Linked DNA regions of Homo sapiens. The protein of the gene in region 6 purifies or fractionates together with the protein of the main gene of each other region. This does not show direct contact. Each region holds a gene or a part of one and is shown on either strand. Other genes may lie near its edges. The genes, in order: CCP110, CEP97, KIAA0586, ZNF804B, CAMK2D, CEP76 and CEP290.

Region 1 (3,500 bases), on a different chromosome or scaffold from region 6:
TCTAAATCAAGTCTCCGTTTAACTTTCTCAAAACTGTTATCCAAAAATTGTTCATTTCCACAGGACACCATAGGTGTGTCCATCTGCTGTCTCGTATTCTGGTTTTGCATCAATAAAGGAGAAGGGTTTTTTACATCATAAGACTTATTCAGTTCTGTTTGCAAACTGCAGTTTTTCTCTAACATACTGGCTGGCTTGAGTCCACTCACAGTTCCAAAGTTTGGACTTGCTATACACTGACTGCTGGCATATGGTTCATGCAGCTTTGGCATCGCAGCACAGGTACTGTTCATTATGTGTGCGCCTCTCTCATCGGATGTTAACTGACCTTCCACAGTAACAAGTCCATGAGTAACTTTATTTTCTAAATGATTTCCTGAAGATTGACATACCTGATTTGATTTACCTAAAACCACATCTTCTTTGACTTCAGATGTATTTTTGCCCACATAAACCTTGCTTGAACAAACTCCCGCTAAATCAGTTGGTAACTTTGGCATAATTTCGGGCACATTTGTGTTTTCATCAGTATCTTGAATAATTAAGTCCATTGCCTGTTCTTTTCCTTTAGGGCTTAATTCACAGGCATTTATTGGGTTATTTATAAGTATATGACACGCTGATGATGTCCTGGAACGTCTTCGGTGCATTTTAGGACTCATACTTGGCTCTGGACTAGGTAATTTGGCATATGAACCTGTAAGACTTTTGATAACATTATTTTCGGTAACAAAAGTGGGAATAACTTTAAAATCAGAATTAGACTCTAGAACAGTGGGATGGCCAGTTCGTATAGGTATGTCCACTTTCGAAAAGCTAGCTAAAACTGGCATACTCATGCTGCTTGCTTGAGTGGAAGCACCTTGGAGAAGAACATTTGATTTATTAAGGCTTGGTTTGTCAGGAATAACTGAGACACAGTGTTTGCCTGTCAACTGGCCTTTCTCTTTTACACAGTCAGCCACTTCAACAGCATCATGTTCTTTGTCTAAATGACTCTCATTAACAATTCTGTTGATACTACCTCTCAGACTGCGTCTAGATTGTTCTCTTTCTATATATTCCTTTGACTTTTTCATCAGATTCTGAAGACTCATTACATAGGGATCTGGGATGACTTCTGCCAAAAGTGGTAGATCCTGTTGTTCATTTACTGAGAAGGGACCATCAGAAATAAGAGTTTCTTGTGGGGTTGCTGAAGAGGTCTTTGGAAAAGCTTCATTTTCTACATGACTAATATTGGAACTATCACATTGCTTCGGAGAATTAAATCCTTCTGAATCTCTAGCTAAGTCTATTCCATCAGTTTTACATTGGTCCTCATTATCCAATGGCAAAATCCCAGCTATCTTATCAAGCTTTGCTGCAGTAGAGTGTTCCGTATGGCTTGGAAAGCTATTTGGAAATGTAGCAGGAACATTCAAGTTTCTGACTTCTGAATTAGAGTAAACTGTTTCCATCTCCCACTGATCAAAATCACTGGCATTAGGTGCTTTTCTAACCTGAAACAGGAAATTTAAAAATTAATATTTCCTCATTGCACAAAAAGTCTCTGATTTCACTGTTTTCTAAAATAAAATTGAAATTGAAAATTCAGAATTCTGACATTTCAAAACATAAAGAAAAACTAAGATGACAGGTTTCTACGGTATCCTGTATCACAGGGGGCTCAAATTATTATTGAAAAGATGCCTACTGGTCATCCTGCCTAAGTTATTAAAAGAGTTATAAAAGAGTTATAAAAAGAAACATCTAATCTGATACAAATATGAACATATATATGTGTATACACACACACATATATTCATATATCCATGTGCAATTTAATCTTAGAATACAAGCACTTAAATTTCTTCTAGTCATATGTTATTAACATTACCAACTGTTCCTCCTAGGATAGCTATCATCCAAGGATAATAATATATGCAATAAACAGCAAGTAATGAAATGTCTTACGTAAACGATTCCCTCTCTAACAAAGACTAACTTGTCCAGGACATTGATTAAGCAAAAATGATTCAGTAATAAGACTCCTGCACCTACATGCTTACTCCAAAGTTTAACTAAACTTTGTCTCAAAAATGAATGAATGAATGAATGAATGAATGTAAAAATAGATATTTTGTATCTAAATAATCCAACTTTGCAAAAGAATAAAAAGAGAACTAGGATAGTTTCTAAAGGTAATTATACATCCGTATATTAAACTGGCAAAAATCATTGTATTATCATATGAATACAGACATCAAAAGCCTGACTACTGGCGGGGCATGGTGGCTCACGCCTGTAATCCCAGCACTTTGGGAGGCCGAGGCGGGCGGATCATGAGGTCAGGAGATCAAGATCATCCTGGCTAACACAGTGAAACTCCATCTCTACTAAAAATACAAAAAATTAGCTGGGCTTGGTGGTGGGCACCTGTAGTCCCAGCTACTCAGGAGGCTGAAGCAAGAGAATGGCATGAATCTGGGAGGCGGAGCTTGCAGTGAGCCAAGATCACGTCACTGCACTCCGGCCTGGGCGACAGAGCGCGACTCCATCTCAGAAAAAAAAAAAAAAAAAAAAAAAAGTCTGAATATTACAATATTTTTTGGTTGTTTTGAATGTGCTTGTTTTTTTCTAGACCACATGGCTCTCCTATTTTACGTTACAAATCCCAAGACAGGTAATGGTTTCCAGGTACTATGCAATACACAGTACAATAAGACATACTTAGTCACAACCTCAGAACCAAAATAAAACAAAAAAGATGCAAAAAGGTTTCCAGGTACTATGCAATCAACAGTACAAGAGTACAAGACATACTTAGTCACAGCCTCAGGACCAAAATAAAACAAAAAGGATGCATATTTATGAAATCCATGAACATGTTCACAGGTTTAAGTAAAACAGATGATTTCCTTACGTAAAATATTTCACATTTGTGATATTCGGAAGCTATGTTGTTTATACGTCACTAAAATGAGCCTTTAGTTAGACAAGTTAAATAACAACAAGAAAAAAATCTATCATAGAATCTTAGGTTTTACAGGTGAAGCAGAAATCTAATTGTATTATATAAAATTTTCCTATCTGAATAATTAATTCATTACAGTTCAACATTATACATGCTCTTTTAACAATTTTATTAGTAGTATATTTTATCTTCCCTCAATGGACCAAGAATGATATGCCATTTTCATTTCAATCACAGGAAATACGTAGTAAGTAAAAAACCTACCTCTTATTGTTAAATTAGTGCTACTCAATACATTTTTTAAACTTAATATGGACAGTAATTATAATCTGCAAAATGAAATCTACTACCCACACACTATATACTACTGTGAAAGGGAAATAATATCTCAGGACCCCAAACTCAACTATGTCACATGAGAGTCACTATGACTCTCATTAACAATTCTCTTAATACTACCTCTCAGCCTGCGTCTAGATTGTTCTCTTTCTATATATTCCTTTGACTTTTTCATCAGATTCTGAAGACTCATTACATAGGGATT
Region 2 (3,500 bases), on a different chromosome or scaffold from region 6:
TACACCAGCACCACCACTATCTAGCTCTTGGCTGCCATTCCTCACGGCCCTGTGCTTTACTCAGAAACTATACAAAACAGCAGAGAGACAGAGAAGGGAGACGCTGTCTGTAATCTACCACCCGTCCTCCCATCAGGAAACTCCTGAAGTAACTACTGTCTGTAGTAGAGAAGAACAAAAAAAGGCGAGGGATAATGTATGTGTTGAGTCCATAATGCATGTGTGTATGTACTGAGAGAAAAAAGTTAAATGAAGCATAGTAGACAGAATAAAGTCATCTCAACTCTCACTATCCCAATTCCACTCCCTCCTTCCCATATCCTAGTTCCTTACCTCCCCTAAAGCTCTCATTCCACTGATCAGGTATCAGGGTCCAGAAGACTCCATTCTGCAGGGATCCCAGCTCCAAGCCACAGAAACTATTAATGATTTACAGGTGGGGGAATTCTTGCTTCTGCTGCTTCACAGGTATAAGAAGGGGAGAACCTGGCCAGGTGCAGTGGCTCATGCCTGTAATCCCAACACTTTGGGAGGCCGAGGCGGGCGCATCACCTGAGGTCAGGAGTTTGAGACCAGCCTAAACAACATGGAAAAACCCTGCCTCCACTAAAAATACAAAATTAGCTGGGTGTGGTGGCACATGCCTATAATTCCAGCTACTTGGGAGGCTGAGGCAGAAGAATCGCTTGAACCCAGGAGGTGGAGGTTGTGATGAGCAGAGATCGCGCCATTGCACTCCAGCCTGGGCAACAAGAGTGAAACTCAGTCTCAAAAAAAATAAAAAGGCTGGGCGCGGTGGCTCACGCCTGTAATCCCAGCACTTTGGGAGGCCGAGGCGGGTGGATCACGAGGTCAGGAGATCGAGACCATACCGGCTAAAACGGTGAAACCCCGTCTCTACTAAAAATACAAAAAATTAGCCGGGCGTAGTGGCGGGCGCCTGTAGTCCCAGCTACTCGGGAGGCTGAGGCAGGAGAATGGCGTGAACCCGGGAGGCGGAGCTTGCAGTGAGCCGAGATCCCGCCACTGCACTCCAGTCTGGGCGACAGAGCGAGACTCCGTCTCAAAAAAAAATAAAAAATAAAAAAATAAAAAAAAAAGAAGAGGAGGACCAATCACCACATCTGCTACTAGTTCCAAATTAAAACTCTGCATTTTCCCAGAGTTATCATTATAATGAGTATTTGGAGAATTCTAAGATACTACTAATACTGCCCTTACATGGCATTTGGAGCTGGATGATAAAATAGAAAATAAAATGAATAAAAAATACGGCCCTTATATATGTGATAGATTAATATATTACAAGCTTTTGTGAGACTGATCTGAGATCCTACACAGGATCTATAACATGATGGTTTCTAAGCAAAAGTGTTCCAAGCTCCAAACAACTGATTAACAAAAGAACTTTTAGAAATCAAATTGTTGTATGTAGGGCACTAAGACTACTAGCTCCAATCTCTGGGGCCGAGATTTCTTCTTTTTTTTTCAGAGACAGGGTCTCACTCTGTCACCCAAGGTAGAGTGCAATGACACAACCATAGCTCACTGTAACCTTAAATTCCTGGGCTCAAGCAATCCTCCCACCTCAGCTTCCTAAGTAGCTAGGACTACAGGTGTGTACCACCACACCCAGCTAATTTTTTTTTTTTTTTGAGATGTGGTCTCCCTATATTGCCCAGGCTGGTCTCAAACTCCTGGGCTCAAGCAATCCTCCTGCCTCGGCTTTCCAAAGTGCAAGGATTACAGGCATGAGCCACTGCACCAGGCCAATATTTATTTCTTATCCTTTTTTAGAAATGACAGAAAATCCTAAATGACCAGCATATAGTCTGCTACATGACTGCACTAATACTCTTGTTATCTAAATGCACATTTTAAGAAATACTCTATTAATCTGTAGTAAACTAGAAATGGTCTTTTCAGTAACATTTGTGATGTTAAAGAGCACATGTTTACCTTTCCTTCTGAGAAATCACATATCCATCTAGGACTCTGAGGTTTAGGCACCAGCTGACGATGTACGGCCGATAGTCAAATCCTGGGATGGATGGTGTTGCCATCACACAAGGATTGTTCATAATCGACAACTGTTCCAATTCAGTTAAGGATGCCAAAAAAGAGATCTGGAACAAAAGATATCTTTGTTGAACAAAAGGACTATTCAGTGTCAAGCACAAAATTTCCACTGATTACATATCTTTGGCAGCATTTGAGAATGTGATAATTTCCCTCTTGTTCTGAAAAGTGACAAGTGTCCATTGACTTCCAAAGTTTCAACAATATAGCCATCTGTCCCTGCTGCACAAAATCCCCTGGCAAATATCAGCACTGTTTCCTAGCAGAAATAACCCTATTTTGAAAACATCACAGCAGCCAGGAAAGGTGGACAGGGAGTCTTATAAACCCTTATAACGTAGATGTCCCTCTACCACCAATCGCCTCCCAGTGGAATGATAATTACAGCTTTACAAAGGAAATTAGACCTTAATGACCCACTGACACTAAGGAAAAGTGGAAAGATCTAGAGCCAAGCATTTCATATGAATGGCAGTTTCTTCCAAGATGCTCACAGTCTAAAAGTAAGCTCACAACCCTCTCCTGTGTCTTTCCTAGGATTTCCAGCTTCCTGAATCTCACAAAATACCCTCAAATTTTACCTCATTTAAGTCTCGGATTTCATTTTCTGCCAAAGAAAGTATAGCAAGACTTCTGGGTAGGTAAGCAGGTGCCATTCTAAGAGAGGTGATGATGTTTCCATGTAAAAGCAGGGTCTTGAAAGTAAAAACAGTATGAATTACAAATGAAAAGATTACAAATAAATTGGCCTATTGTGACAACACCAAAATGGTACATATAAGAATAAAGGAATCTACTTTATTATATTTCTCATCACACACAAATCAAAGACTGTTAATGCTACAAGGGTCCTTGATGATCTTCTGGTCCAACTCTCTGTTTTCATACCAACATCCTAAGCTCATGATATTTTAAAGACTTGTCCAAAAACACATGCTTGGCATAGCAACTAGGCATGCTGTGAGATTTAACTTATGAGACACTGAGCAATTTCTAACACACTTTTTCATTTTCTTTTAAAATATCAAAATAGAGGCCATGTGTGGTGGCTCATGCCTGTAATCCCAGCATTTTGGGAGGCCAAGGAGGGAAGATTGCTTGAGCCCAGGAGTTTGAGACCGGCCTGGGCAACATAGTGAGACCTGGTCTCTACTAAAAATCAAAAAATTAGCCAGGCATGATGAGGTGCACCTGTATTTCCAGCTACTGGGGAGGCTGAGGTAGGGGGATCACTTGAGCCCAGGAGGTCGAGGCTATAGTAAGCCATGACTGCACCACTGCACTCGAGCCTGGGTGACAGCAAGACTCTGATGTCTCAAATTAAAAAAAAAAAAAAAAAAAAGTCATTAAAACAACCACATATAAAGCAAATTTTCCAAAAAAGAGAGTGATAACCTACATCCATAATTGCAACTGTATTC
Region 3 (3,500 bases), on a different chromosome or scaffold from region 6:
TTGTAACCTTATATAGAATTAAGATTTTTCTGTGAAGAGCTGTTGTATTTCTAGATGTCTGGATAGTAGATATTCTAACAATATTTTAAAATATCTGCCATTGGTGATTATTATAGGCACTAAGGTAAAGTCAATAAGAACACAGACTGACTTCTATGCAACAAAACCTAAGAAGATGGATTCTAAAATGAAACATTCTGTTCCTGTGTTACCTCATGGCGATCAGCAATATTTGTTCAGCCCAAGTAGAGAAATGCCTACTTTTTCAGGTACATTGGAAGGTCATCTGATTCCTATGGCAATTCTTTTAGGTAAGAATCAACAAAATATGTGGGATGGATTTTATTTTATTTATTTATTTGTTTGTTTGTGTGTTTATTAGAGACGGGGTTTCACTGTGTGGCTCAGAGTGGTCTGGAACTCCTGGACTCAAGCAGTCCACCCACCTCAACCTCTCAAAGTGCTGGGATTACAGGCGTGAGGCACCGTGCCCAGCCATTGAATTTTAAATTCTTATCAGCAGTAGCAGAACTTACAAAATGGTACTAACATGATAGTCATCTACCTTTTCTTGTAAATGTTATTTGTTTTTGTGGGGAAGGCCTCACAATGTATTTTATGCTGTGTAATAGCAATCTCTGAAATGATGGGTTCCTGCTGTAGTTTCACCAATAGGAAAAATTCTTTTGGTATGTTATATTATTGTAGATGAAATGAAATTTTAAACAATATTTTGGCTGGGCACAGTGGCTCATGCCTTTAATCACAGTACTTTGGGAAGCCGAGATGGGAGGATTGCTTGAGACCAAGAGTTTGAGACCAGCCTGGGCAACATAGCAAGACCTTGTCTCAAAAAAAAAAATTAGCTGGGCTTGATGGCTAACACCTGTAGTCCTAGCTACTCTGGAGGCTGAAGCAGGAGAATCCCTTCAGTCCAGGAGTTTGAGGCTGCAGTGAGCAATGATTATGCCACTGTACTCCAGCCTGGACAACACAGCAAGACCCTGTCTCTTAAAAAAGAAAGTTTAAATATGTCATGGACATTCATAATAATTCAATAAGTTTGATTATCTTGTTAATATCATTATGTCTTTGGGGAAGTATTAAGGTACTTTTTTTTGTACTTTTGAACTAGGCTATCATAAGTGAAAGCTGTGTGGGTGTGTAATCTAAGCCAATAGTTGTTTATTTACTTATTTGCCTTCTCTCTGAGTCTTCATGTTAAAAATTGAACAGATCATTTTTGTCCTCACACCAGCTGTTCAAGTCTAATTAGCTCTTTTTTCCCTTTAGTGTCATTGCTGTTCTTTTGTTTTGATTAACAATTTAAGTATGAATATTTTTTAATGTAAGAGACTTTTTTATTTTTGATATTATGGGTTAATTTCATGTCAACATAATAGCTCTCTGTTTAAACATATCTCCTAGTAATAAAATAGCTCACACTTTTAAAGTTCTTACTGTGTGCCCGGTACAGTTCTGAGCACTTTACATATATTCTCTCATTTAATCCACCCTATAAAGCACATGGTAATATACAAATTGTATAGCTAAGAAAACTGAAGCACAAAAGGGTTACATAATTTGTCAAAGGCTACACAGCTAGAATGGTGCCAGGATTCAAACCCAGGCAGAGGCAGTCTGGCTTTATAGTCTGTGTTTTCAACAAGTACACTGTACTACCCCTCTTTACTTTGATATGTAGAAGTCAAGTGGGACTTTGGAAGTGAAAGTTTTTGACATTTTAAAATGTGGATAGTATTAATAGCTTTCTATTAGCCTTTATTTTGAGGTTTAAATTAGATAGTGATGTGAAGCGTTGAGTACATATAAGTGCTTAATAAAAGTCACTGGGTATGGTGAGTATGTCGACAGTGCTGATGATGGAGGGAGGGGTGATTGTCAGATAGGGCTTTTTTAAATATGAGAATATAGCCATTAAGATCCAGATGGTATATTAGACTTTTCCCTTTTTTTCTGAACTAGTTGACTTATTTTTTCTCCTAAACTTCTTAGGACAAACCCAAAGTAATAGTGATACCATGCCACCTGCTGGAGTGATTGTCAGCAAGCCACACCCTGTAACTGTGACTACTTCTATTCCTCCATCATCTCGAAAAGTAGAAACTGGAGTAAAGAAACCTAACATAGCCATTGTAGAAATGAAGTCAGAAAAAAAGGATCCTCCTCAGCTTACTGTGCAGGTATGCCAGGGTGCATGAGTAGAAAATTTTAAGGAAGAAAAAATTTTTTTGCTTAACGTTAGTACGGAAATCCATTATATTGCTTCATAAAAATATTGCTTTTGATCATGACTCTTTTTTTTAAATTTATTTTTATTTTTTAGACAGAGTTTTGCTCTTGTCGCCCAGTCTGGAGGGCAATGGCGCAATCTCGGCTCACTGCAACCTCTGCCTCTTGGGTTCAAGTGATTCTCCTGCCTCAGCCTCCTGAGTAGCTGGGATTACAGGCGCCCGCCACCATGCCCAGCTAATTTTTTGTATTTTTTTTTAGTAGAGATGGGGTTTCATATGTTGGCCAGGCTTGTCTCAAACTCCTGACCTCAGGTGAATCCACCTGCATTGGCCTCCCAAAGTGCTGGGATTACAGGCATGAGCCACCATGCCCCGCTGGCTCTGTTATTTTTAAAACTGTGATATTAATATGATGTTTCTGTCCTGTTTTGCATGATTTAAGCTGCTCTTCTAGGCCAATGACTTATATACAAGTGGCTTGGTGATATTCCAAGGGGAACAATTGAACTGTGTATTATAATTAATTTTAAAAAGTTAATATATGTGACTTATATAATTAATACTTCAAACTTTACACTAACATATGTTAGAAGACTTGAATGAATACAAGACTTCAACAGGCTCATGTGGGAAGAAACCCTTTGACATTTCACAAACATCTACCCTTCGGCCTGGGATCCAGCTGTAGAAGCTGAGGTCTTCACTAGGTCTGGACAAAGGTGAACATGAGTATTTACATGCGACTTTCTATTGACCAGTCAGGAGGCAACTGTAGGAAAGCATTCATGAACTGTGGTAAACTTTTTGGCTGATTTACTCCAACTCCTGTATTCGTCTTACCATCCTTGCTTACTTACAAATAATTAGAACACTCCAGTCCTTAGACTGCTCCAAGGTTCCTCTTTTGATTGAGCCAGGACAAATGAGTTTTCTTGGGCAACTTAGTATGCCCTCTGGGAAGAGAGAAGACTTGCCTCATTCTTGGATCCTGATCACTGAGGAGAAGATAATCCTGGAGCTGTCGGATGCCACCACATGAACAGTCAACAGGCTCTTAGTACTGATTTTTGACTGGACACTCCTCCCTGAACAAACGAACTATCCATTTCTTCTGCACAAATTTATACAGAACAGCCTCAACCCACCAGCCTGAGAGATTCCCAGGGACTTAGAAATCACCCATGTAGCTCCACAAACACTTCGTTCTCATAGATTGACTTCCACCCTGCAGCTAAAATTGATAGT
Region 4 (3,500 bases), on a different chromosome or scaffold from region 6:
AGGGACTAAACCCTCAGCCCCATATAATAACTGCTATTGCTGAGGAAACAGGTTGGCTGGAACTAGTTAAGAGACGGTCAAATTTGATGACCCTTTATAAGATCTGTTACCATTTTTTTGCCATCATTTTATGCACTACCAGTAAATTCACCTCTCTTCTCCCAAAGGGTCACAGAAGAATTGTGTTACCTGGATCATCCTATTCAGAAGCCCTCATTATGAGGAAAAAGGACAAAGAAAAGATTGTCCAGGAGAAGGGTAATGCCAGTGATTTTTTCTTTTTATTTTATTTTTAACTTTCACTTGTCAATTCACCTACTAAAATAAAGTATTTAATAATTCTGTTAAGTGACTTTCCTTCAACCATGAGTCTGTTTAAGCAGAGAGAGCAATTGGCTAAGAGGCAGGTGATGGGCAGTAGACGATAAAAAAAAATTATTTTCCTAGTTTCAGGCTCTATATCTAGAAAGCTGAACACTTGTCTTTTCCATAACAATACGGGCACATTGTGACCTAGAGAGTTTGCCTATTTTATCAAATCACCAAAAGGAGTGGTTAGGTTTGTGTTTGTTTAGTGAATAAGGCTTCCAGAGGGACAGCTGAAACTTAATAGAGTGGACCTTTTTATTTGAAAGAAACTTAATGGGTAGCTCTAGCAAACTTGGAACTTCTAAATAAACCATCATCATCACCATCATTATCATCATCAGCATCATTATCATCATCAGCATCATTATCATCATCACCATCACCATGACCACTGCCATCAGCAAGGCACCTCTGATTCTTTGTTATTTACTCCAGAGGAAAATATAGAATGGGTAAGCAGAAATGTAGAAGTGTGACAACTTTCATAATAACAAACAACCAAAATTATATTTGTTAAGACTATTTAGATTTACTGTTGTGCCCTTAAGGGACCTGTCTAAAGACGTATATCTATGTTAGAACTTGTACCATTTGTTATGATCTGACTTACTGCATCTCCTTATTAATCACAGGAATTAACACTTTCCCTAGATTTTTTCCTGCATGCTACCCTAACAACAATAGAACTTTTCCTTCTAAGCCCTATTTTGGCAAGGACTGAGTTCTCATTAACAGTATGTTTGCACAACATATTGTAAGTCCCTCATTGTGTTGGCTGTAGAAAGCTCAGTACCAAATGTATGCGTTGCTTCTAGAGTTGTATAAGACCCCAGAGCATGCATTTTTGTATTAACCTTACTTCTGGCTACATGTTGTACCTTTATTTTGTCTTCATATGAAATTTCTCATTTCTTGTTAATATGATTATCTTTTATGTATTTTCATAAATTAATTAGATTATTCTAAAAGTTATAAATAAATACATGCAAGCTGAATATTAATTGCATTTTTACTCATAATTGGTCCTACAAAAATAAATGTTTCCTTAAAATTACCTTTTAAGTCTAATATTTTGTGGTAACTAATTGAGCCACTCACTCCTGTTTATTATATATTACTTTCCATTTAAGCAATAGGTGTTTAAATTCTGGCACAGAGGCATAAGTTTCACAATTCACTAGGTTGCTGTCAAACACATTAATTAGCTACATTAGTGTTTTACATTATGATTCATATGAACACAAATCACAATCCACAAATTTAATTGCATTCCAGGTAACAACTTTGAAACATCCAGTGGTTCCAAGCTTTGGTAAAACTGCTATTTTTCAGCTACAAGAATGTATTAGTATAAAACTTGTTATATTATAATTATCAATTTAAATGGCACTGTGTGGTAAATTTAACTGCATTAATTACATCTTGTTTGTCAGCCAGACAATGATCGTGTTATTTGTACTAGACACAGGTGTGTACACGGAAATGTTCAGAAGACTTATTCCCCACCCCCTAAGATATATTGTTAATTATGGTTTTTAAAATTATTATTACAAAATTTAAAAAATATATTAAGAAGTGATATTAATCCATTTAGTCAACTGGATAGAATAAATGCTAATGTATTTGAATCATTCTGGGATCATTTCATTATAGAGTACATTAAATTAACAATATTAGGAAAGAAAAATATCAAAGGCCAAAAGTTATTAATTTATGTATGTTTAACTATATTTGCCCTTCAGACATATCTATTAGTTAGTTATTATTTGTTTACATTGTTACAGTAGATTTGCCTTTAAAATTTCCCCATAGGTTGACGAGAGTTTTGAAGCATCCCAGACACCTTTAATTCTTACCATTCAGATTGCTGCCTTAACTCAGCCAGCTGATGAAGTCGTTTAAGTGCTTTTTCTTGTTTTTTCTCATCTTTCCATGACTTAGAAGCTACATTTCGAGCAAATTCCCGTTGCTTTAATTCTTTCAGTCTCTTGAAAAAGAAGAAAAACCAAAAAGGTACTATAAATAAATAATATATTCTTTTCCATCCACAAGGCTCCTTATTATTCTTTATCCTAAGTGCAGAGGTGACTTTCTGGGCAGAAAGAGTAAAAGTATCTTCTCCATTGTTGCTATTCTCTGCTCCAAGACACATTTAGCAGATAAATGTGTTGTCAACCAGGTTATTTTTCCAAGCTTGTCACAGTCACTGCAAAGCTGGGCCCCAGGCCTCGCTGGTATCACCCTGGCTATGCAAGTATAATAATCTGTGTGCTTATAAAAACACAAATGGGAAAAACATGCAATATATGAATGAGTATGAAGGGAGGCAGGTTATGAGATGCATGTTCTTCCACCCACCTGCCCCTCACTTGTAAAAGTGATGCTATTAAATACACTGGGTGGAATAAGCTTGTTTCAGGAAAGAGCATCTGTTACTGTGAAAGATTTGGTTCAAAGCTCTAAATGTGATTTTGAATTCATTTTTCTGGATGGAGATATTTATCAAATACATATTTCTATATTGTATCCAGGAAGACAGAAAAAAATGAGTCAGGGATTTAAACTCAGAATAGAGGCATGGCCCTGCTTGATTTAAATTCACTCACCACTTATTTTAATTAATATTTTCTCTAAAACAATTGACTTACATGCAAGTAAGACCTCTTCTTAAGAATCTGCCACTAAGCACAGCTAATGATATTGAATGAACTGAGAAACAGCCAAAATCAAATGAACCTCTTGAAGTTTGGGGCTTAATCCTGAATTGGAAGTGTATTTAAAGATTATCCTCTTAACTCATACAAAGTGATTTTAAACAGTCTAAAATCTGTATCTGTTGAAATTATTTTCACTTCCCATATCAAGTATAAGAGATGTTTCCCAGGTATGGAGAAAACTACATAGTTATCATGTGACGTAATAATACTGGAGCCGACTGTTACTCACTTGCAGAGCAAGGGCCAAAACCTTTCATTAGCTTCATTCTTTAAATGAAACATGCTCATGGTAGACAGTGGTGAGATAACTACATCTAAGCTAAGGATTTGAAGAAGAAGGCAGATCGGTCTTTCAAAGAGAGAATATTCTCAGCACAAAGAACAAGAACCTCACGGAATTAGAAACAGCTACAG
Region 5 (3,500 bases), on a different chromosome or scaffold from region 6:
AAAAGCCTAAATGCAAATCCTTCTGGAGTACAATTACTGCTTAATCTGTTATCAACTTTTCCTACTCCAGTCTGCAGGAGAACATTCTAGCTCTCTTCTGAGAATTGGTTTTGTCTGAGAGAAAAGCAGGAATGCTGTAAATGCTTCCTGCTGCTTTCTCAGGTTAGGGTGGTTTATGACAGCTGTTGTTCAGTTCATGGACACATGGTCTAGTACGCTGATCTTCATTGTAATCTTTTTGTACATTCTCACCTTTAAAAAATCTGATAAAAAGACCACAGAGCCATGAAAGGTTCATAGAAGTCAGTAGAATTTTATTCAATGAAATCACTCGAAAGCTGTGTCATCTATGTTTACCCTTAAATTATAATTTTTTACATAAAAATTCAAAATTTGGGTGAAGATTAATATTCCTTGAAAATTTCCTTAGAATATACTGATTTGCTACTACATTTCATTTTTCCTACATTCAGCTAGATGACCACTTCATTTGGTGTCTCTCAGCCTTCTGCTGAGACATTTGAGTCCGAGTATATCCTCAGCATTAACAGTAAACCTACATAAAGAGGGCAGCCCAACAGCAAAACAAGAGTTGTATACCCTCGTGAGCAAAGAATAATAACAATAGGAATATTAATGTCAGTGATCAGAATAGTTATACTGCTACCATTTAATTTCTATCAAATATCATTCTAGTCACTCTGTACCCATTAATCCTCACAATATCTTTATTAAGTTGGTATGTTTATTCTCATTTTACAAATATGGAAACTGAGGGTCAGAGGGAAGAGGTAACTTGCTCAGAGCATCAAGACAGTGGTGAGAGAACCCATCATTAAAACAAGGACTATCTGGGTACCCCTTGAGGCTTCTGTTATCAAAAGGGCTTGGCCTCAATTCAACAACTATTTATCAATGATATCTCCATTCCTGGCCTTGGTTTGGGTTTAGGAATGCAATGATGAATACACAGTTCTTGCCCATGGAGACATTATACTGCAGTAGAGGAGACACAAATAGAAATATATTTTCAAAACAATGTGGTTGACAGGAGAGGTAAATACAATCTATTATGTAGGTTTTGAGAGGGAAGGCAAGCCCAGAATAGGGCCTAGGAAGGTTTGCTGTGGAGCATGATGCTGTACACTGAATCTTAGGAAAAAGTAAGAAGTCGGGAAAAGAAGTAGGGGAAGAGACTATTTATTCTAGGTAAGAAACATAAACAACATGAACAGCATAAACAGGCATGTGAGCAAGTGTGATGTTTTTAGCAAATCAAAAGAAGCTGAGCATCCATGTATGCTCAAGTTCAAGCTGGGGAGTAGCAGGAGCTGGGGTGCTTGCCTGTATCCCAGAAATGATAACATCAAAGTGTTACAAGGACAGGTTCGTATTAAAAAAAAAAAAAAAAAGCAGCCATGTGAAGGCTGGATTGGAGGGTACAGTTTAGAGAAGCTTTTAGGAGTCTTAGTTGTTAACTATATTGTTCTCAGCAACATTTTCCCAGAAGAGACCATTGTTTTGCTCACAGAGAACAATTAACTTGCCATTCTCACCAAGTGCAAATTGTTATGTACTAAATGAGACCAGAGTAGGACACACTGCCCTTGACACTGGCCAGCACTATGCAGGCATACATACAGTACCTCTTCTGAAGAAATAAAGATGGACGCACTGTCAGCAGAAATCACAAATTTATTAACTCTTAAATATATCAATCAGTCCTTTACCATTATGGCAAGAAATATATACAGTGTCCCATGGTAAACTGCAGTGTTTCAAAATGATAGAAGATAATAAATGTGTAATTCATTTGTGGTGGAGAGAACAAATCACAATTTCCTCACATCTTAGTGCGGAAGACAAACTTGATCTACAGTAATACTTCAACACCACATGCTAAGTTAAAAGTGTAAAAAAAACACTCTACATCTATTTTTTTTTCTTTAAATACATGTATGCCACGTATAGCTGCTTCACAAAAGGGTAAAAGAAATTAAAAAGAGAAAAATGAGGCCATTATTTTTTCACAGATCTCATTGGCAGGTTAACATGGCTCAATATATTTACTGTATATATTTATTTTAAATATATATGTTGTTTTAAATTGTGTAATAATTATCAGAAAAGCTTCAACCCATCTACCATACATCCACTAGCAATAATATCTAAGATGATTAGTAATCAACACAGAGAGGTGAGATGAGAGAAAAGAGGAAGGGTTGTTTTTGTTATTTTGTTTTTCTTTTTTGCTTCTGCTTTAAAAATAGGCTTCTGAGGACTGTGAATTACTATCGTTAAAATAACAATGATGGAGATTCCATGCACTGTAAAGCACTTCAGGGAAGAGAACAAAAATCACAGGAATTGAATCAACAAAGGAAAAATGAGAAGCACAAAGAAAACCTAGGACATTTCCCTTTTTGTTTTAAACTGGGAAATTCTAACTCCTTGGAGGAAGACAATGATACTCTGATTCAAGAGAGAAGCTAAAAAAGCACAAGTCACAAAGATCAAGTTCAAAACACTTATGAGAATGGCAAACATTTGTAAGCCTCTCTAACACTAGAAAACTAGCTAGTGATGATGCAGAAGTGACCCTTTCATTCCCCAAGGCGGAGGTGAGTGCGTTTGCATAAAACCCCCTCTGCTATCAAGTTGGTATCCTCCTGGCAACTGTCCCAATCAGTAAGACGTTGCAGTCACAGGAGGAACTTGCTTTTATCCTAACTTTAAACAATGCAAATACCTCCAACATAGTTAGGATACCTAAGTCCAAACTAGAGCTTAAGCAGAATTATAAACCTTTAAAATCTTGACAACATTTTTGTGGGCCCTGAAGATGATCAAAAGTGCTAGTATAGCTACCTTCAAAAGACTTTTATTTCCCTTTTACATTCATTATGCAAATTTCACTTCTATTCTTTTCTCACACACTACTAGCCAGCCTCCCCAAAAAAGGAAAAGGGAAAAAAGTAAGAAAAGAATGGAACAAAAGAAAAATAAGAAAGCAAACGAAAGGAACAAAGAAACAGGATAAAGAAAAGAGATCACAGATTTGAGAAAGAAAAACAATTCAATTCAGCAAATTCACCAAAACAATGTGAATATATCCTAAAGTGATTAAACTCAGAAATGATGTGAATTTTTCCAGTTTACACAGTTTGACCAAAAACAGCATGGCTTTATGTGGTAGCAAACCAACTGATTCTTGCTTCTACTTTCATAAGTGATTTTGCCCACATATCATCCCACTTTAATTGTTAATCAGCAAAACTTTCAATGAAAAATCATCCATTTTAACCAGGATCACACCAGGAAACTGAAGGTGTATTTTTTTTTTACCTTAAAAAAAAAAAAAAAAACCAAACAAACCAAAACAGATTAACAGCAAAGAGTTCTAAAAAATTTACATTTCTCTTACAACTGTCATTCAGAGAACAATAGTTCTTAAGTCTGTTAAATCTTGGCATTAACAGAGAAACTTGATGAAGAGTTGT
Region 6 (3,500 bases):
AAATACTTAAAATTTTATGGTTGGCTAAAACAGATTGTTTTGCATGAAGTATATCAGAAGAGTTAATGTATAGCACGGTAGAAGCAAAAACAGCATCACCAGTTTCTTGTGTTTTAATAATATGTTTTATAAAAACTGTACAGCCTTGCTTTTAAATATTAATATAATTGACAAATACACTTGCTGAATTGATAATTATATGAGTTGGTTTGTGAAGGTGGAGGAATGTTGGATAAGCAGTTAAAAAGCAAAAGTATACTACATATTGGCTCTGATGCCTTTTCCAGCTGGGAGAAAGTAGCCTGGATGTAAACTCAGAAAAGAATATCATATTTTGTGTATCTTCTCCCCAGAGTGCAAATGATTCTGGCATATACAGTAATAAATTTGTTACTCTTTTGCTTTTTTTTTAGTCTTTGGTATTGGGTTTTTATCTGTCAAGTTTTTATTTCCTAATGTCTTGATCACATTCTTTTAAGTTATTTGGCAGTTTCCTCATATATATTGCTACACTTTACAGCTAATATTGATCCAACACGGAGGTATCTTTACCTTCAGGTTTTGGGTGGAAAAGCTTTCTTGGAACATCTGCAAGAACCTGAGCCTTTACCTGGACAAGTTTGTTCAACGTTTACTTTATGTTTACATTATCGAAACCAACGTTTTCGTTCTAAACCTGTTCCATGTGCCTGTGAACCAGATTTTCATGATGGCTTTTTACTTGAAGTACACAGAGAAAGCTTGGGTAAGAAACAGTAATAAATTGTCATTTAATTGAGTAAATCTTTGTTATGTTTTATTGTGAAACAATAATAATGACTTTTTCTGTAAGGAGAGATTTATAATGGAGGAATCTCTATTTTGTTTCCCACTGCTCTTTTCAATTTAAACTACTATCCACCTTCTTGCAATATTCTGTTTGCTATTCATTTTCCCTGGATATTATTTTTTGACTGTTTTCATTGTTGATTCTTTAGTAATACACACTTAAATACCTATTATGTGCATAGTGTTATGCTAGGCAGGTGCTGGGATGATATAGTGGAAAATGAGACATGGTCCTTCTCATTTATAAAATATAACCAGATTGATGATGTTATGTAACTTTTAAAAGTCGAAGTTTAGGCTGAGCACGGTGACTCACAGCTGAAATCCCAACACTTTGGGAGGTCTAGGTGAGAGAATCATTTGAAGCCAGGAGTTCAAGACAAGTCTGGGCAAAGTGAGACATTGTCTCTACAAAAAATAAAAAATAGGCTGGGTGTGGTGGCTCATGCCTGTAATCCCAGCACTTTGGGAGGCCAAGGCAGGTGGGTCACCTGAGGTCAGGAGTTTGAGACCAGCCTAGCCAACATGTCGAAACCCTGTCTCTACTAGAAATACAAAATTTCTAGCCGGGCATGGTGGCAGGCGCGTGTAATGAGCCGAGATCACCCCATTGCACTCCAGCCTGGGCAACAGAGTGAGACTCTGTTTAAATAAATAAATAAATGAATAAATATTTATAAATTATTTATAAAAACTTCTAATAAATTTTTATAAATACTTACAAATAAATATAAATAAAATAAAAAGTCAAATTTAGATGTGAACATATAACTGTCATTTTAATTTTTTCTTTTTTTTCTTATTTCTCCAATAAAGCATGTAATTCTCATAACTAAATTTTATGCTACTTGATTCCTGTAATTGTTTTACACTATGTTTCTTTCAGTAAAGGTATTTTGTATTTTGTAATTGTCAGTATGGAAATCTTTATATTTGTAAACTAAGCAAAGTTTCAGAATGTCTTCACAATTTTAGATTTAAAGATGACTGAAACATTACTAAAATTTATTTTTTTCCCTTTGAAAGATGTTACCTTAATAAGGCAATTAATAGGATAAATTGCTAGATTCGATGTGCTGTATTTTTCAGTTGTATGTCAATTATACAGTGATAATTTCTGGAGGTTAAAGGGATTTCTTGAGGTAGTTTGGGGATTAATATTGACATACTTGAAGGCTTTTTATTGTAGTAGCATATACTTTAGTTAAGTACTTTTAAAGAACAGACTTATCTTATGAATCAGAAAGCACTGATATGCTGTAAGTTACTGGATAACTCATCACAATTTGCCAGTCTTCTGAAAAGTTAGTGATAGAAATAGGACTGTACTTGTATTTCCAGTTTTTTGCATGCTTTCTGAGACATTAGCAAATTGTTCTCTTTGGTTTTATATAAGCTTATTATTTACTGTTTAATAAAAGTATTCTTTTATGTTGGCCTAACTGAATATGTAGTGTGGTATAATTTCGTTTGGATTATATTGCTAGGTGATGGAACTAGAATGGCTGATTCAACAACAATGTTATCAATAAGTGATCCAATTCATATGGTGCTAATCAAAACAGACATATTTGGTGAGACGACTTTAGTAGCATCATATTTTCTGGAATGGCGATCGGTTTTGGGCTCAGAAAATGGAGTGACCAGTCTGACTGTGGAACTTATGGGTGTAGGTATGGTGATTAATATATCATTGTTAACCTTTTTATAGCCACAGTTCATTTGTAAATATATTTTATATCTTTAAAATGCTTTTATAATCCAAGAGGGAAACCTGTAAAATAGAATTTCGTTAGAGTTACAATTGGACCTCAGCATCCTAATCTTGAGAAATGTCTTGAAGAATAATATCAGTATAGCACTTCATGGTCAATCTGACCTTGTCTTAGGAGAAATGTTTTTTTCTGGAAAATGAATACAGGAATTTTGAGGGTTTTAATTTCAAGTTCATTTGATTAAATATAAGGCTATAAAGAAAATTAATATTCTTGACACACATACAAACTTATGTGTGTCCAGTCATCACACCCTGGAATACATCCCCTTTGGTACCAGTGATTCTTGCAAAATACAGAGTAGATGTTCTCCCAACCTTTTACAGTGTGGGTGAGTGAGACTCGGAAGAGGAAATAATTTGCTCAGTGTTAGTATCAACTAGTCCTTGAGGGCAGAGCTGGTGCCTATCTTATTTATCATAGTCTCCTTGGAATCTTGCACACTGCCCGCTATGTAACACATACTTGCTAATAAAATGAGAAAACAAAACCTACCAATGTTTTATCTATAACATATAATGGAATTACTTTGGTTTTTAAACTTAGTCACAGAGTTAAACCTTGCCAGTGGACAGCATAGCCTTAGTAATTTAGATTATTATTATTATTATTATTATTTGAGATGGAGTCTCGCTCTGTCACCAGGCTGGAGTGCAGTGCTGCAATCTCGGCTCACTGCAACCCCCGCCTCCTGGGTTCAAGCGATTATACTGGCTCAGCCTGCTAAGTAGCTGGGACTACAGGCATGCACCACCACACCCAGCTAATTTTTGTATTTTTAGTAGAGATGGGGTTTCACCATGTTGGCCGGGATGGTCTCGATCTCTTGACCTCGTGATCTGCCCGCCTCGGCCTCCCAAAGTGCTGGGATATTGGCGTGAGTCACCGCGCCCAGCC
Region 7 (3,500 bases), on a different chromosome or scaffold from region 6:
GTTTTCATAGCTAACTTCTATATGATTCTTCAACATTTTAGAGTAAAATACATACATGAAGAATGGGGATACTTTTCCTTACAAATCAATTTATGATACATTCTCTTAAATAGCATATCATTGTTTTCTTAAAATGTATGACCCTCAATTTCTGAGAGAACAATGGACAAAATAAAATAAATGGAATATAACACAACAATGACCTAAAGGACACAAAGGTGGAAAACGTTTCTGAGTATAAGGGACAGGACAGTTACCACATGTAGGCACCAAATTTTACTAAGTTTACTAACAGTTCAGGTGAAATAAAAAACAAATAAATGTTAAGTAAATAAATAAATAATACATTAAATAGGAAGCTGAGGTAAAATAGGAAATTTTCTTCCAGGAAATACAAGTTGATCTGCAAAAAACTTTTTTCCTAAAACTAAATTCAAGTGAACACTGCAAGAATTATTAGTTTATAACAAGGAATAACGAGGTAATAAAAACTATGCATTAAAAATGTTATTTTAAATATGTGATTTATAAACTGCTGACATGAACACAACTTTTCAAAAACTATACATATATATATATATCTCACATAAAATAAGGTACAACCAAAAACAAGATATTTAATTAACCATTATTGAATATATCGAAAGATTCATTTGCGAATCTACTAATCATATAAATACATTGAAATGAACAAATATAACTTTTACCCAAAATAAACTATGGCACTAGAAAGATCACTTCTTTATGAAAATCTATTAGTTACTTGATACCAATCTTCCAGACAAAAGCATTAATTTTAGGTAACAAGTTTGATGTCCTGAGAAAAATGTACTTCCAAATATAAAGAATTAATCTTCAAGTCATATTCACTAGAAGTACCATTATATTTTAAAATTGGTGATGACAAAATGAACAGTGATATAAAACCTTAGAGATAAGTGTACATCATTTTTCAAATATAACATACAATATAAAAATTGATATTGTTACCAATAATAATAAAAAGCCAGGTAACTTGAACAGTGAAGATTCATGGAAAAAAAAAGTGCTTTACTTGCTCATTAACTTTCTTCTCTTTCTCCAACTCCTTTTCCATGTCCTCCAATTCTCTATCTTTTTGTTCTAATTGTTTTTCAAGTTGGCAAATTTCATTACGTAAAAACCGAGTATCTCGTCCACCTGCAGACTGCTGAGCCATCTTAAAGTAATAAACCCAAAGTATAAATTAATCCCATTATATTTTGAGGTTCAAATGAGTCAACAACAAGCAAATAATTATGCTGAATTTAAATTTGCATTATACTTCAGTGCAGATATTTAAAATCATATTAGCTTAAGAACTTTTTTTTTTTTAATTTAACTTACTTAAGGTTAGTTCACAGCTAATAACTCCTTAAATTTTTCCTGAGCCACCCAGAGATGCAAAGAATTGACTGTTAATCATTCTGTTGTAACCACTGGGCCACAGGTAACCAGACTAAACTGCAAAGGTTCCTGAGCCTCAGGGATCTGGAACCTGAGTACAAACCATCAGAATCTCCACCCCAGTCAGTGAAGCTGAGTGCCTTAACCTGCCCTTTCTCTCATACCATGCACTGTTTAGACCAGTGCTGTCCCATAGGACTTTCTAGCATAATGGACATGCTGTCAGTGCTGTCCAGTTCAATAGCCACTCGCTACATGTAGCTATGTTCGGGCATTTGAAGTGTGGCTAGTGCAACTGAAGAACTAAATTTTTCATTTTAATTTTAACCAATGTAAATATAAATAGCTACAAGTGGTTAGTGCTAGTGCTACCATATTAAACAGCTCAGGTTTTGGTTATCTTAAGATTTGTAGCCGATTAAATCCATTTTACCTCACAGTCTTGTTAATTCAGGTCATGGCCAAGAACATCAAATCATTTGGTCATCTAATGTGTCTCACATTCATTTCTTCACCTTATAGTTCTGTTATTCCTCTACCTTAACCAAATTGTTCTTACTCTTTCTCTCCTCCAAAAAGCATTCCATTGTGCTCTCTAAAATTCTCTTCCAAGATAAATTAATATTTCACATCCTCAGATTCTTTACTGAATCCTCCTTTCCATCTCCTTGGCTTAGCTGCAATTTGGATCCTTTAGTATACTAATGCCCTTGGAACTCTTTCAATTGGAAGGTGCTCATTCTTTCAGATTCCAAATACATGAGGGTCAGAAGAAGGTGTTGGTGCTTCTAGGTTTACCCCACCCTGCAACTTCAGGTGATCATTCCTATCATTCCTCCATCATCCTATAGAAACTTCAGCTGCTTTCTCACAAAATATCCTGCTCTCCATCTTTACCTACTCATGGTAGAAACAAGCCACCAACCTTCCAGTAACTCCGCAAAATGCACTGGGAATTTAAGCATGTGGCCCACAGATGTCTATCAAATGCCCACTAAGCAATCTCCACATAACTTTTGTTCTAGTCTATTTTTTTCTTGAATTCACTATAGTCTCTCACTCCCACACCCACATCAGATCCTTGTCCAACCAGAACATTCTTTCAATTATTCCCACTATGCCTGTCCTTCGACCTCACAGGACACTCTAACCCCTCATCTTCTCCCTCCATATCCCTACCCTTCTGCCCACCCAACCCCAATCTTGATTTTATCTATTCAGTTAAGACTTCATAATCATCACTTCAACCACTTTCCTACCAATATCTTCAACTGTGCTACCCTTCTATTCTACAGCAGCTACCTAGCTAAACACTAACACAGAACTGATCCAACTCCATAATTCATTTAGTATTTATTGAAAGTGCTTGGCATTTTCCCAGGAGCTGGATATACAATCAAAAACAATAGGTCATCCAAGTTCAGAGAGTTAACGAGTAGAAGAATCAGGACTAGAACTCAAATCTGTCTGACTCCAGATCCCCAACTCTCCAGTCCTGTCTCCAATATATTTCAAATTTTACCTAATTTCCTTAAAATGTGACCACACCATTTCCCACTCTTTTTAACAGAAGATGTCATCACCAACCCCTCAACTTCCAAGCATTATGCCTACAAACATAAAAGCCTCTATACACATCCACTCTTCCCACGCTCATCCACTCATCCTCCTCTCCTAACACAAAGGAAAAGGGTATTCCTCCTTTCAAAGGCTGATCCATTTGTATCACATTCCTACCTTCTCAGGAATCTCAATGTATTTTGTTCTTCAACAATACATTCATATTTTAGCCTTCAGCTTTGTCAAAAATTACTTCTATAACACCCTTTCGTCACTATTCCTCAAATCCCCACCCACCCTCCACCTCAGTTACTAGTAATCTTTCTGTATATTTCCCAAGACTATAAGCTCCATCCAGCAGTTAACTTCTTATTTTGTTCACAACCATATGCTCAGTCCTTAGTACTATATAAGGCACATAATAGGCATGTAGAACATATACAGAATAAACAAATAACCATGATTACAATCATCCTTATAATTTTTCCAGCCAACAATAATTTTAAAATTTGAAA

What was found.
Region 1: the proteins of CEP76 (region 6) and CCP110 purify together in Homo sapiens (co-immunoprecipitation; 4 studies listed by BioGRID and IntAct, with this or other methods). This does not show direct contact.
Region 2: the proteins of CEP76 (region 6) and CEP97 purify together in Homo sapiens (co-immunoprecipitation; 4 studies listed by BioGRID and IntAct, with this or other methods). This does not show direct contact.
Region 3: the proteins of CEP76 (region 6) and KIAA0586 purify together in Homo sapiens (co-immunoprecipitation; one study listed by IntAct). This does not show direct contact.
Region 4: the proteins of CEP76 (region 6) and ZNF804B purify together in Homo sapiens (affinity purification with mass spectrometry, with the first as the bait; one large-scale study listed by BioGRID). This does not show direct contact.
Region 5: the proteins of CEP76 (region 6) and CAMK2D purify together in Homo sapiens (affinity purification with mass spectrometry, with the first as the bait; one large-scale study listed by BioGRID). This does not show direct contact.
Region 7: the proteins of CEP76 (region 6) and CEP290 purify together in Homo sapiens (co-immunoprecipitation; 5 studies listed by BioGRID and IntAct, with this or other methods). This does not show direct contact.

What each region holds. Positions count from the first base shown.
Region 1 is NC_000016.10:19,533,942-19,537,441, reverse strand, and holds part of CCP110 (centriolar coiled-coil protein of 110 kDa), read right to left. Parts: intron 1,503-3,500; coding exon 1-1,502.
Region 2 is NC_000003.12:101,731,114-101,734,613, reverse strand, and holds part of CEP97 (centrosomal protein of 97 kDa), read right to left. Parts: intron 2,775-3,500; coding exon 2,661-2,774; intron 2,127-2,660; coding exon 1,960-2,126; intron 1-1,959. UniProt on the Homo sapiens protein: Acts as a key negative regulator of ciliogenesis in collaboration with CCP110 by capping the mother centriole thereby preventing cilia formation. Required for recruitment of CCP110 to the centrosome.
Region 3 is NC_000014.9:58,465,719-58,469,218, forward strand, and holds part of KIAA0586 (protein TALPID3), read left to right. Parts: intron 1-116; coding exon 117-311; intron 312-2,016; coding exon 2,017-2,204; intron 2,205-3,500. UniProt on the Homo sapiens protein: Required for ciliogenesis and sonic hedgehog/SHH signaling. Required for the centrosomal recruitment of RAB8A and for the targeting of centriole satellite proteins to centrosomes such as of PCM1.
Region 4 is NC_000007.14:89,326,200-89,329,699, reverse strand, and holds part of ZNF804B (zinc finger protein 804B), read right to left. Parts: intron 2,357-3,500; coding exon 2,226-2,356; intron 1-2,225.
Region 5 is NC_000004.12:113,450,739-113,454,238, forward strand, and holds the end of CAMK2D (calcium/calmodulin-dependent protein kinase type II subunit delta), read right to left. Parts: 3' UTR 294-3,500; downstream 1-293. UniProt on the Homo sapiens protein: Calcium/calmodulin-dependent protein kinase involved in the regulation of Ca(2+) homeostatis and excitation-contraction coupling (ECC) in heart by targeting ion channels, transporters and accessory proteins involved in Ca(2+) influx into the myocyte, Ca(2+) release from the sarcoplasmic reticulum (SR), SR Ca(2+) uptake and Na(+) and K(+) channel transport.
Region 6 is NC_000018.10:12,696,224-12,699,723, reverse strand, and holds part of CEP76 (centrosomal protein of 76 kDa), read left to right. Parts: intron 1-520; coding exon 521-745; intron 746-2,315; coding exon 2,316-2,501; intron 2,502-3,500. UniProt on the Homo sapiens protein: Centrosomal protein involved in regulation of centriole duplication. Required to limit centriole duplication to once per cell cycle by preventing centriole reduplication.
Region 7 is NC_000012.12:88,135,589-88,139,088, forward strand, and holds part of CEP290 (centrosomal protein of 290 kDa), read right to left. Parts: intron 1,199-3,500; coding exon 1,055-1,198; intron 1-1,054. UniProt on the Homo sapiens protein: Involved in early and late steps in cilia formation. Its association with CCP110 is required for inhibition of primary cilia formation by CCP110.